Linked DNA regions of Homo sapiens. The protein of the gene in region 1 interacts with the protein of each later gene in a pairwise test. Each region holds a gene or a part of one and is shown on either strand. Other genes may lie near its edges.

Region 1 (3,012 bases):
TGGGAGGAAAAGAGTTGGGAACTTCAGATGGACCTAGTACCCACTGAGATTTCCACGCCGAAGGACAGCGATGGGAAAAATGCCCTTAAATCATAGGAAAGTATTTTTTTAAGCTACCAATTGTGCCGAGAAAAGCATTTTAGCAATTTATACAATATCATCCAGTACCTTAAGCCCTGATTGTGTATATTCATATATTTTGGATACGCACCCCCCAACTCCCAATACTGGCTCTGTCTGAGTAAGAAACAGAATCCTCTGGAACTTGAGGAAGTGAACATTTCGGTGACTTCCGCATCAGGAAGGCTAGAGTTACCCAGAGCATCAGGCCGCCACAAGTGCCTGCTTTTAGGAGACCGAAGTCCGCAGAACCTGCCTGTGTCCCAGCTTGGAGGCCTGGTCCTGGAACTGAGCCGGGGCCCTCACTGGCCTCCTCCAGGGATGATCAACAGGGCAGTGTGGTCTCCGAATGTCTGGAAGCTGATGGAGCTCAGAATTCCACTGTCAAGAAAGAGCAGTAGAGGGGTGTGGCTGGGCCTGTCACCCTGGGGCCCTCCAGGTAGGCCCGTTTTCACGTGGAGCATGGGAGCCACGACCCTTCTTAAGACATGTATCACTGTAGAGGGAAGGAACAGAGGCCCTGGGCCCTTCCTATCAGAAGGACATGGTGAAGGCTGGGAACGTGAGGAGAGGCAATGGCCACGGCCCATTTTGGCTGTAGCACATGGCACGTTGGCTGTGTGGCCTTGGCCCACCTGTGAGTTTAAAGCAAGGCTTTAAATGACTTTGGAGAGGGTCACAAATCCTAAAAGAAGCATTGAAGTGAGGTGTCATGGATTAATTGACCCCTGTCTATGGAATTACATGTAAAACATTATCTTGTCACTGTAGTTTGGTTTTATTTGAAAACCTGACAAAAAAAAAGTTCCAGGTGTGGAATATGGGGGTTATCTGTACATCCTGGGGCATTAAAAAAAAAATCAATGGTGGGGAACTATAAAGAAGTAACAAAAGAAGTGACATCTTCAGCAAATAAACTAGGAAATTTTTTTTTCTTCCAGTTTAGAATCAGCCTTGAAACATTGATGGAATAACTCTGTGGCATTATTGCATTATATACCATTTATCTGTATTAACTTTGGAATGTACTCTGTTCAATGTTTAATGCTGTGGTTGATATTTCGAAAGCTGCTTTAAAAAAATACATGCATCTCAGCGTTTTTTTGTTTTTAATTGTATTTAGTTATGGCCTATACACTATTTGTGAGCAAAGGTGATCGTTTTCTGTTTGAGATTTTTATCTCTTGATTCTTCAAAAGCATTCTGAGAAGGTGAGATAAGCCCTGAGTCTCAGCTACCTAAGAAAAACCTGGATGTCACTGGCCACTGAGGAGCTTTGTTTCAACCAAGTCATGTGCATTTCCACGTCAACAGAATTGTTTATTGTGACAGTTATATCTGTTGTCCCTTTGACCTTGTTTCTTGAAGGTTTCCTCGTCCCTGGGCAATTCCGCATTTAATTCATGGTATTCAGGATTACATGCATGTTTGGTTAAACCCATGAGATTCATTCAGTTAAAAATCCAGATGGCAAATGACCAGCAGATTCAAATCTATGGTGGTTTGACCTTTAGAGAGTTGCTTTACGTGGCCTGTTTCAACACAGACCCACCCAGAGCCCTCCTGCCCTCCTTCCGCGGGGGCTTTCTCATGGCTGTCCTTCAGGGTCTTCCTGAAATGCAGTGGTGCTTACGCTCCACCAAGAAAGCAGGAAACCTGTGGTATGAAGCCAGACCTCCCCGGCGGGCCTCAGGGAACAGAATGATCAGACCTTTGAATGATTCTAATTTTTAAGCAAAATATTATTTTATGAAAGGTTTACATTGTCAAAGTGATGAATATGGAATATCCAATCCTGTGCTGCTATCCTGCCAAAATCATTTTAATGGAGTCAGTTTGCAGTATGCTCCACGTGGTAAGATCCTCCAAGCTGCTTTAGAAGTAACAATGAAGAACGTGGACGTTTTTAATATAAAGCCTGTTTTGTCTTTTGTTGTTGTTCAAACGGGATTCACAGAGTATTTGAAAAATGTATATATATTAAGAGGTCACGGGGGCTAATTGCTGGCTGGCTGCCTTTTGCTGTGGGGTTTTGTTACCTGGTTTTAATAACAGTAAATGTGCCCAGCCTCTTGGCCCCAGAACTGTACAGTATTGTGGCTGCACTTGCTCTAAGAGTAGTTGATGTTGCATTTTCCTTATTGTTAAAAACATGTTAGAAGCAATGAATGTATATAAAAGCCTCAACTAGTCATTTTTTTCTCCTCTTCTTTTTTTTCATTATATCTAATTATTTTGCAGTTGGGCAACAGAGAACCATCCCTATTTTGTATTGAAGAGGGATTCACATCTGCATCTTAACTGCTCTTTATGAATGAAAAAACAGTCCTCTGTATGTACTCCTCTTTACACTGGCCAGGGTCAGAGTTAAATAGAGTATATGCACTTTCCAAATTGGGGACAAGGGCTCTAAAAAAAGCCCCAAAAGGAGAAGAACATCTGAGAACCTCCTCGGCCCTCCCAGTCCCTCGCTGCACAAATACTCCGCAAGAGAGGCCAGAATGACAGCTGACAGGGTCTATGGCCATCGGGTCGTCTCCGAAGATTTGGCAGGGGCAGAAAACTCTGGCAGGCTTAAGATTTGGAATAAAGTCACAGAATTAAGGAAGCACCTCAATTTAGTTCAAACAAGACGCCAACATTCTCTCCACAGCTCACTTACCTCTCTGTGTTCAGATGTGGCCTTCCATTTATATGTGATCTTTGTTTTATTAGTAAATGCTTATCATCTAAAGATGTAGCTCTGGCCCAGTGGGAAAAATTAGGAAGTGATTATAAATCGAGAGGAGTTATAATAATCAAGATTAAATGTAAATAATCAGGGCAATCCCAACACATGTCTAGCTTTCACCTCCAGGATCTATTGAGTGAACAGAATTGCAAATAGTCTCT
Region 2 (3,500 bases), on another chromosome or scaffold:
AAGCAATCCTTCTGCCTTGGCTTCCCAAAGTGCTGGGATTACAGAAGTGAGCCATGGTGCCAGGCCCACCCATTATTTTCGACTATTTTTTTCTCCTGTGATAGGTGATTTTTTCTTCCAAGAATTTTGATAGGTTTAAATTCTAATCTGCAGTACCTCTGAGTGTGATCTTATTTGGAAATAGGTTGTTTGCAGATGTAATCAAAGATAAAGTAAGGTCTTACTTGATTAAGGTAGGCCCTAATCCAGTATAACTCATGTCCTCATAAGAATGGAGAAGATGCACACCCATAGAGGAGAAAATGCCATGTGAAAATGGCAAAGGAAGGAATGCTAAGGTTGCCAGCAACCACTAGAAGCTGGAGAAGGTCATGGAATAGATTCTCCCTCAGAACTTCCAGAAAGAGCCAACCCTACCAATACCCAGATTTCAGATTTCTAGCCTCCAGAACTGAGAGAGAAAAACATTTCTGTGGTTTTAAGCCATCTAATTTGTGATACTTTGTTATGGCAGCTGTAGGAAAGTAATACGGTACCAGGAAATGGGGTGTTGCTCTAACCAATACCTAAAAGTGTGGAAGTGGCTTTGGAATTGTGTAGTGAGTAAAAGCTGGAAGAATTTTAAGGTGCATGATAGAAGCAGCCTACGTTGTCTTGAAGATACTGTTGGTAGAAATATGGACATTAAAGGCGACTCTGGGTAGGTCTCAGATGGAAATGAGGAACATGTTAATGGACACTAGAGGAAAAGCGTGCCTGGTTTGAAAGTGGCAGAGAATTTGGCTGAATTATGTTCTGTACAGTTCTAATATGAATATGTAAGGGGCCGTCGGCTCTTCTGTTTGGAGAATGACATGGAGTTATCATGACAATTCTTATTATTAGAAAGTTGATTCATTTTTTTATTTCATTTTTTCATTTTCATTCTGCAGAGCAGGTGAGGTCAAAAATGACCCTTGCCTATTGGAAAAGCTGCAAAACATTAAGCTACTCTTTCTAGTTGAAAATCTCAATTTGTTTTAAATGGATTTGTGTGTGTGTGTCATTGGACAAGATAATAGCTCGGCAGTAGTTTGATTATATAATAGGTCTTCAGCTTATTAATCTAAATGGATTCCTGTTAATCTCTGAACAATGCAACCAGTGACCGATGTCCAGGTATGAACTATTACAGTGAAAACCACCAGACTAATTTTGTAACAATATTTATATGAAAATGATGCCTTTATCTTTATAGTTTTCACCTTGTTTTCTGATCAGTATTTTATTTGCTCTGTTCTTTTTCTCCATATTGAGGCTTTGCATATTTTTATTTTGTCTCACATCTTTGCACAATGAACCTATAAAACCTCTAGTTTTTAAGATACATCTTTCAGTTACATCAAATGTCTTCTAAACTTTTTTATTATTATATTACTTCTTACTACTCTCTTGTGAATGAAGGCTAATGACAACTCTGTCTCTGCATTTGTGTAGGGGTAATGAGATCCTTGTTCAGTGGTTCTTCTAATTTGGGGACTGGTGAGTTATTCATATGCATAAGGATCAGCCTATTATAAACACTTGGCAGGACCATTAATTCGGTTTAGGTCTCCCACTTTCCATTTCAGTGCTTGTTTCACTGCATTAATCGTTCCTTAGGTGTTTTAGATCATAATCCTCTTTTAGATCAAGGTAATTATTTTGCCCAGATTTACATTTTTGCCATGTGTTACAGCTGTGTTCAGAGGTTTTATAGGTTTTATACTGACTGGAGAAGCCTCTCTGAACTCTGTTCACCCAATGGGCCAACAAAAGAATATTGAATTTTCCCAGACAAAACCCTGCTGGTGTTTTCAGCTCTAGTTCTGTCCCGCAAATTCTCATCAGTTACAAGGCTGTTTTTTTTTTTTTTGAGACGGAGTCTCGCTCTGTTGCCCGGGCTGGATTGCAATGGCGTGATCTTGACTCACTGCAAACTCCGCCTCCTGGATTCACGCCATTCTCCTGCCTCAGCCTCCTGAGTAGCTGGGACTACAGGTGCCCGCCACCATGCCCAGTTAATTTTTTGTATTTTTAGTAGAGATGGGGTTTCACCATGTTAGCCAGGATGGTCTCGATCTCCTCACCTTGTGATCTGCCCTCCTCGGCCTCCCAAAGTGTTGGGATTACAGGTGTGAGCCACCGTGCCTGGCCAAGGCTATTTTCTGTAGAATGTTCCTGGTATTTGTTATTTACATAGCAGATTCTATTATATCTCTTTAATCTGCCAGCATCTTTTGGTTCTGAGAAACTTGCAGGAATGCTCTAGTTTTCAGGCAGTCTTTGCAGTCCCTAGATCATAATGTAGAACGCCATCTTTTTGTTTTGACAGGGAGGCTTATGATGATATTTGTGGGCTGAACGTGATCTTGAAAGGCCAATTAGTCTATTTCATGAAAGTGTATGAAAGTTGATTCAGGTGAGGATTATTGACTAGTGTTAAATTTGTTAAGTGAATGGTTGGGGAACTAGAAATTTACAGTGGATCAAATAACACTGCACAAACAATTTCCTCGATGAAAGAGGGAAGACATATCTGTACAGTGGGTGAGTGGATCAGACTTCATTATCCAAACCCTGTGGTCCATCTTAGTTATTATATATAGTGCTTATGTTTGTTCAGCCATCTTATGTGCTGTAACAAAGGGTTCAAAGCAGCATCTGTATTTTAGCCAAAAATATTTAGCTTGACTCCATTGAGCACTTACATTTTTAAGATTAGTTTATAGATAATATTGGAGATAAAAAAAATCTGTAAATAATACCATGAGGAAGCAAACAGACCTAGCCTGGCCTTGTCAATAAGTCAGGGTCGTAAAAATAGGGACTGTGCTAGATTCAAAGAGACTTAAGGAATAAACAATTAGATACAATTCCTGGTCCTGGATTGGATACTGTCTTGGAAAAACCAGCTGTATAGGACATTTTTTGGGTTACGGAAATTTGGAACTAGCCTGGATGTTATATGAAATGAAATTTATTAAGTGGAGAGATGAAGAATATTTTTTAAAAATCTAGTGACCAAAAAGAAGTATATATAAATATATACATAGAAAAAGATCTGGAAGTATGTGTACTGAGGGGTTAGTGGTACTCTGTGGGTGAGGGAATTTGGGGTTTTTATATATTTTAGTTTTGCTTGTCTTTTCCTCCTAATTTTCTCCAGTGCATATGTCCTGCTTCTGTGTTAATAAAAGCTCATTATTTTTTTTAAGTCCACACTAACCCATCCTATACAGATGAGTTGTTTTAATAATTTTACTCATTTTTTTCTTGATAAGGATTTTGTAATGTTTGGGACACATCTTTGAACCATGTCTTTAGATTCTACATGCATCTCTGTTTTAAAAATTTAATATTCTATTATGAAAAAATTTAAATACATGCAAAAGTAGATAGAATAATAATACAGTGATTTTCCATGTACCCATCATCCAGCTTCAGCAATTACCAATTAAGTATAGTATATTTCATGTCTA
Region 3 (3,500 bases), on another chromosome or scaffold:
GCAAGATAGGAAAGTCTACTTTAATAACATACCCAACAGACATTTTCGAGACATTAAATGTAGATAAAATGGTAACTGTTCAAAGCTGTCTTAAAGCCCATAGAGTCTCATCTCCTTTCCTATTTAGGTTCATGTACTACTTAACATTTATGATTTCTTTATTTTCTTTCTCTCCCTGCTTTTGGTGGTTAGAGTGTAAATTGTTAGTTTCTGTTTATTTTTCTGAGCATTGTCAGCCTCAGAGTTAGAAAACCAAGATGGTCTCACTTCTGAAACTTCTCCCAGTTCCTTTGGTTCTATATCCCCAGCTGGATTCATGTGTTGATCCAGAAAAGGAGAGGGATATTGCCGTGTTTTGTTTTTGTTTTTGTTTTTGTTTTTGTTTTGGCAAAGGGCTTGGGACCCTGAGTAGTAAGTAGCAGACGGTCCCAGTGCTAATTAGATAAATCTAGCCTTACAGGCTAGACCAGATGGTGGGTTGGGAGTTGAGCAGTAGAAAGGCCTAATGGTGATAGCAGTGAGTATTTGGATATCATTATTTTATTAGTTAGCAAACAGAACCATCCTTGTGGTCCCTCTTCGGTTTTATGTGTAATGGTGCTGTAGGTGTCAGCCCCCGAGTTGGCACAATAGCCTAATCAATGTATTCTAATGCCTTTTTTGATATACACTGTCATCTCATTAGCAACACACAGGGAAAGGAGAACAAATAGAGTTTTACAAATCACTCTTAAGTATCAGATCACATAAGCCTGGGGGCCTCTGAAAGAGCAATTCCTTGTTTTGTTTTCCTTGAGGTAATTTCCTAGGGAAACTTGCCCTTGACTTTTTTTGGATTACTGCAGTAGATCACCTGGACTCTGGCGAGGGCAGCTGAGCTTGGCTTTTAAAAAATTACCACAATGCCTCTGACAGTGGACATCTCCTTCAAATAAGAGAAACAGTGAAAAGTTTTTTTGCTTGAGGTATATCTACATGAGACAAAGCCCTGATGAGCTTGGTCTGTTTGAATGTGTTGTGCTGTTCTGCCCGGGCCCATGATGTGGGCACTCTTGTTCTATGCTCACATCAAGGGTAAGCCACTTCTTCCTGGCAGGGAATCACACGGTGGGACTCAGAGGGATTCAAATGAAAACCGAAACAAGGCCTATAGGCACAGTGCCAGTTAACATCTCATTGGTGCTGTTGTGTGGAGTGGATGCTCCTCACCAACAGACATTCCTCCACCCTCAGATCTTGCCACCTTACCAGGCTGAGCCTGCTGCCTGCCTGACCCTGCAGTTTGTTCTCAGGAGCTGCAAAGTGCAGACTAGGGCTGTCATGGACATTGGCATAGAGCATAGTGGGAAATGAAAAGAGCCCTGGCCATCCAGCCGCAGCTGGGCTTTGTTCTGTTTCCTCTCTTGGTAGAGTTAGAGATTAGTATTAGCAAGGAGCTGTTCCAGAAAACTGGTCTCTAGATGTTCCAGTTCTCTTTCTCTTAAATGAGAAAGTAAGATACAAATTTATGAAATGACTTTCTTCTCCAAGGTCACATAACAGGTGTTGAATAGGATTCCTGCCCCAAGAAAGCTCTACCTGTATCATCTTTTTCTTGGAACCAGTGGGTTTGCATTTTCATTTATCTTGGTTTTGATCTCTGGGACAATAACAGCTGTTAAATGGCTCTCTAGGAATAATTTTTAATAACTTTTTCCTTATCTAATCTCTCAAGCGGTATTTCCTAAATGTGAACTAAGACTCAGCAGGTGGTTGTGGTGGTGTTGACTATCCTATAGTTTCCTGCTAAGGTGGGAGAAGAGACATACTTTTCTTGCCTCCTGTGTTTTGTTCATTTGACATTTTAGTTTGAATGAGAAGGTATTCTTTAGCATTTCTAGACAAGGTTCAGGCCCTTAGGAAGTCCCTAAAGTTTCTTGGCCCCAGAATTTTTACAGTATCAACTCCAAAGTTTCTTATCCTCTTTTCTTTCTTTGTCTGATGCAGCTTCCGTGAATGTGCTGGTGCAGAACTGCAAGATCTACAATGATGCCAGCTGTGACATTTCTGCAGATGGCCAGCTCCTGGCAGCTTTCATCCCCAGCAGCCAGAGGGGCTTTCCTGATGAAGGCATCCTGGCAGTGTACTCCCTGGCCCCCCATAACCTGGGCGAAATGCTCTACACCAAGCGATTTGGTAAGGGATAGGAAGCCCAACCTAATGACAGAGGGACGCTGGTGCCTTGGCATGGTCATTGCTAGGTGAGGCACAGCTTGGGTGGGAGTAATGGTCACATACTGCCCCTACCTTCACTGGGGCACAGGCCAGAGAAAGATTGCTTTGCAGGAGTGCTGGCTAGTAACATTGCAGAAGCATCTGAGCATTAGAGTCCTACCGCATGCCCCTGTTACGACGGTCAGGAATAAGGGAGGAGGTGGTTGTAGCACACACATGCACTGCAAGACAGTTTGGCATTGTGTATTTAAAACCTCCCAAAATGTGTCAGCTCTTTGGCAATCCAGCTTTTAAGGAAATAATCAGAAAACTATACAAAGATTTACATACAAGGGTGTTCACAGCAGTGTTACCATACAGAAAAATGCCAAATTGTTGCCTTGAGACTTTTTTGTTTGTTTGTTTGTTTGTTTTGCGGGAGGGTGGGGTGGGTGTTTTGTTGGTGTCACCTTGAGTTGAATTTAAGTGTTTTTTGTTTTTTTTTTAAGAGTTGACTAAACAAATGATGGTGCAGTGATAGAACTGCTCCATTGGCCCTTAAAATGCTCTTACAGAACAGTGTTCATAATGTATTAAATGAAAAAGGTGGGTTTCAAAATAGTAATTACAGGATGTTAACAATTTTTTAAAATGTTGATAACAACGGTTAGCATTTATTAAGTACTTTCTTTCTTTTTTTTTTTTTTTTTTTTTTGAGACGGAGTTTCACTCTTGTTGGCCAGGCTGGAATGTAATGGCGTGATCTCAGCTTACCGCAACCTCTACCTCCCGGGTTCAAGCGATTCTCCTGCCTCAGCCTCCCGAGTAGCTAGTATTACAGGCATGCGCAACCACGCCTGACTAACTTTGTATTTTTAGTAGAGATGGGGTTTCTCCATGTTGGTCAGGCTGGTCTCAAACTCCCTACCTCAGGTGATCCCCCGACCTCGGCCTCCCAAAGTGCTGGGATTACAGGCATGAGCCACCGCGTTCAGCCTTATTATGTGCTTTCTATATGTCAAACACTACACTCAGTATGTATATGCCTTCTCATCATACTCCTCACTACAGTCCTATGAGATAACACCAGGATGAGCAAGTGAATATGAAGATTAGAGAAAAAGACAAGAGTAAGAGTGAAAGTTGTTTCCTTGGAATGGCCAGAAGCCTAGGAAATATTTCTCTGTTTTGTTGGCCCTCAGGTCCCAATGCCATTTCGGTGAGCCTGTCCCCAATGGGCAGATATGTAATGGTGGGCTTGGCCTCACGAAGGATCCTGCTGCACCCCTCCACAGAGCACATGGTGG
Region 4 (3,500 bases), on another chromosome or scaffold:
GTGCTGGGATTACAGGCGTGAGCCACTGTGCCTGGCCAAATGCCCAGCTAAAATTTTTTTTTTTTAAGATGGAGCTTCACCCTTGTTGCCCGGGCTGGAGTGCATTGGCAAAATCTCGGCTCACTGCAACCTCCGCCTCCCAGGTTCAAGTGATTCTCCTGCCTCAGCCTCCCAAGTAGCTGGGATTACAGGCATGTGCCACCATGCCTGGCTAATTTTGTATTTTTCGTAGAGACAGAGTTTCTCCATGTTGGTCAGGCTGGTCTCATACTCCCGACCTCAGGTGATCCGCCCGCCTCAGCCTCCCAAAGTGCTGGGATTACAGGCATGAGCCCCCGCGCCCAGCCTCTTTTTAAAATATTGGAAAATTACTGATAAAACTAAAGATCCTTTTGACCCCTTATTTTCCCATCTTAGAATCCTTTCCTTTTTCCTTAGAATAATTTCAGTTATGACTTAGTTGTGCTTTTGTTCAGATTTTTTTAAATACTTTTTTTTAACTTTTTAGTAGCGATCAGGTCTCACTATGTTGCCCAGGCTGGTCTCCAACTGCTGAGCTCAAGTGAACCTCCTGCCTCAGCATCCCACAGTGCTGAGATTACAGGCGTGAGCCACTACACCCAGCCTCAGATTTTTCAAAATACTCTTTTTTGAGACAGAGTCTCGCTCTGTTGCCCAGGCTGGAGTGCAATGGTGCGATCTCAGCTCACTGCAACCTCCTCCTCCCAGGTTCAAGCGATTCTCCTGCCTCAGCCTCCCAAGTAGCTGGGATTACAGGCGCCCACCACCACACCCGGTTGATTTTTGTATTTTTAGTAGAAACAGGGTTTTACCATGTTGGCCAGGCTGGTCTGGAACTCCTGACCTTAAGTGATCTGCCCACCTCGGCCTCCCAAAGTGCTGGGATTACAGGCGTGAGCCACCACGCCCGGCTTAAAAATACTTCTAAACATACATGTGCCAGGCTGGGTGCGGTGGCTCATGCCTGTAATCCCAGTACCTTGGGAGGACCGAGGCAGGCGGATCTCATGAGGCCAGGAATTCAAGACCAGCCTAGCCAACATGACCAAAAATACAAAAATTAGCCTGGTGTAATGGCGCATGCCCATAATCCCAGCTACTCAGGAGGCTGAGACATGAGAATCACTTGAAGGACACGGAGGTTGCGGTAAGCTGAGATCATGACATTACACTCCAGCCTGGGTGACAGAGCAAGACTCTTGTCTCAAAAAAAAAAAAAAACAAGTGCCAATAGAAAATGCAAGTATTTTCTCACATCATTGATGTGCTCTCTGCATGGTTCTGCAGTTTACTATTTTAAATCAATTATGTACGTCTTAAATTTCTCCACCTTGACACATTTAGTGATCCAGCAAATGCATTTAAAATTGTGATACTTCATTGTATGAATATACCATATTTCATTTAGCCTTTTACCTAGTAGTAAATGTATATCATCAGGTTGGTGCACAAGTAATTGCAGTTTTTACCATTGAAAGTAATGGTAGGCTGGGTGCAGTGGCTCATGCCTCTAATCTTAGCACTTTGGGAGGCCCCGGTGGGCAGATTGCCTGAGCTCAGGAGTTCAATACCAGCCTGGGCAACATAGTGAAACCCTATCTCTACTAAAAATACAAAAAAAAAGTTATCCGGGTATGGTGGTGTGCACCGGTGAGCCAAGATCACGCCATTGCACTCCAGCCTGGGCGACAGAGTAAGACTCCGTCTCAAAAAAACAAAAGGAGAAAGTAATGGTAAACAACCTAATAGATTATTTCAGATTTTTTGCTTTTACCCACAGGACTATAATACATTTCTTGTCAGTTCTCCTAGGGTAGCTATATATTATTAGATGTTGACTATCAGGGCTTTTTTGGCCTCTAAACATGATATTTAGTCAAACAACTGTCTTAATTTTTTTTTTCTATTCTCCATAGGGATGCCATTGAAAAGTTATTTCCTGATGCCATTAGACTGAGATTTGAAGACATTCAGCAGAATAATGACATAGTCCAAAGTCTTGCAGCCTTTCAGAAATATGGGAATGATCAGATTCCTTTAGCTCCTAACACAGGCCGAGCGAATCAGCAGATGGGAGGGGGATTCTTTTCCGGTGTGCTCACAGCTTTAACTGGAGTGGCAGTAAGTTGATCACTGTGTTCCTCTGTGCCCCCCCACACCTCACCCCCCGACCCCTGATTTCCACTGAAGTCAGTTCTGTTGAAATCACTGAAATAATTGATGATGTGACTCCATGTAATTTACTACGTACATTGAAATCTGCTGGGTTCTATGATTTCCTCAGGAATGTTGCTTACTCAGGTAGATCAGATCATAGTACCTAGTAAATGGAGAAAGGTGGTAGAACTGGAATTCAAGACCATGTCTGCCTTGGTAATACAATCTTTTTTTGTTTTGTTTTGTTTTTGAGACGGACTCTTGCTCTGTCGCCCAGGCTGGAGTGCAGTGGTGCGATCTAGGTAAAAACTTTCTTTTAGGGTGGTGAAAATGAACTAAAACCAGCTGTGGTGATGATGACACATATTTGTGAACACATTAAAAACCGTGGATTGTGTGCACTTCAAATGTGTGAATTTTATGTGGATTACATCTCTTGCTCTTTTTTTTTTTTTTTTTTTTTTTGAGATGAAGTCTTGCCCTGTTGCCTAGGCTAGAGTGCGGTGGCATGATCTCGGCTCACTGCCACCTCCACCTCCCGAGTTCAAGTGATTCTTCTGCCTCAGCTTCCCAAGTAGCTGGGATTACAGGCATGCGCCACTACAAGAGGCTAATTTTTGTGTGATTAGTAGAGATGGGGTTTCACCATGTTGGCCAGGCTGGTCTGGAACTCCTGACCTCAAGTGATCCACCCGCCTCAGACTCCTCAAGTGCTGGGATTATAGGCGTGAGCCACCACGCCTGGACCTCCTTGGTAATACAGTCTTAAGAACCCACCAGTTTACTAACTTCCAATGTGGAGACTATTTTCTTTTAAAGTTCTGTGCATAAAAAATCTAAATGTTTTTCCAGTAGAAAAGGCACAAGTCAGTTATGTTGAGCAAGTTGATGGAGTCAAGGCACCACCTGCTCCCAGGTGCCTGAGATAAGTCCTTTTCTCGCCTCTGTGCCCTCACTGCCACGCAATCAGCAGAGAGAGGCACCCGAGGAGAGCTGTGGTCCCCAGTTCTCTGTGGCCGTGGCGTTGCCCTGCTTTTGTTGCCCTGCTTCTGTGTACGGGCTCCGCATCATTCCCTGTGAGCTCAGCCTCTTCCTTTCCCCACCTCCCACCCGCATATTTAGAAACTGGCATCTCTGCCTCTCCATGGTTTAAAGTCCCTGTCACTTTTCCCCAGGTGGTCCTGCTCGTCTATCACTGGAGCAGCAGGGAATCTGAACACGACCTCCTGGTCCACAAGGCTGTGGCCAAATGGACGGCGGAAGAAGTTGTCCTCTGGCTGGAGCAGCTGGGCCCTTGGGCATCTCTTTACAGGGAAAGGTTT

What was found. Proteins that work in one complex are often made in the same cells at the same time.
Region 2: the proteins of BCL2 (region 1) and AVEN interact in a two-hybrid assay, tested with the Homo sapiens proteins (one study listed by BioGRID).
Region 3: the proteins of BCL2 (region 1) and AMBRA1 interact in binary tests that used the Homo sapiens proteins (3 or more experiments, as listed by UniProt).
Region 4: the proteins of BCL2 (region 1) and BFAR interact in a two-hybrid assay, tested with the Homo sapiens proteins (one study listed by BioGRID).

What each region holds. Positions count from the first base shown.
Region 1 is NC_000018.10:63,125,003-63,128,014, reverse strand, and holds part of BCL2 (apoptosis regulator Bcl-2), read left to right. Parts: 3' UTR 1-3,012. UniProt on the Homo sapiens protein: Suppresses apoptosis in a variety of cell systems including factor-dependent lymphohematopoietic and neural cells. Regulates cell death by controlling the mitochondrial membrane permeability. Appears to function in a feedback loop system with caspases.
Region 2 is NC_000015.10:34,004,705-34,008,204, reverse strand, and holds part of AVEN (cell death regulator Aven), read left to right. Parts: intron 1-3,500. UniProt on the Homo sapiens protein: Protects against apoptosis mediated by Apaf-1.
Region 3 is NC_000011.10:46,433,524-46,437,023, reverse strand, and holds part of AMBRA1 (activating molecule in BECN1-regulated autophagy protein 1), read left to right. Parts: intron 1-1,986; coding exon 1,987-2,175; intron 2,176-3,395; coding exon 3,396-3,500. UniProt on the Homo sapiens protein: Substrate-recognition component of a DCX (DDB1-CUL4-X-box) E3 ubiquitin-protein ligase complex involved in cell cycle control and autophagy.
Region 4 is NC_000016.10:14,646,451-14,649,950, forward strand, and holds part of BFAR (bifunctional apoptosis regulator), read left to right. Parts: intron 1-1,937; coding exon 1,938-2,142; intron 2,143-3,353; coding exon 3,354-3,500. UniProt on the Homo sapiens protein: Membrane-bound E3 ubiquitin ligase that plays a role in several processes including apoptosis regulation or reticulum endoplasmic stress. Has anti-apoptotic activity, both for apoptosis triggered via death-receptors and via mitochondrial factors.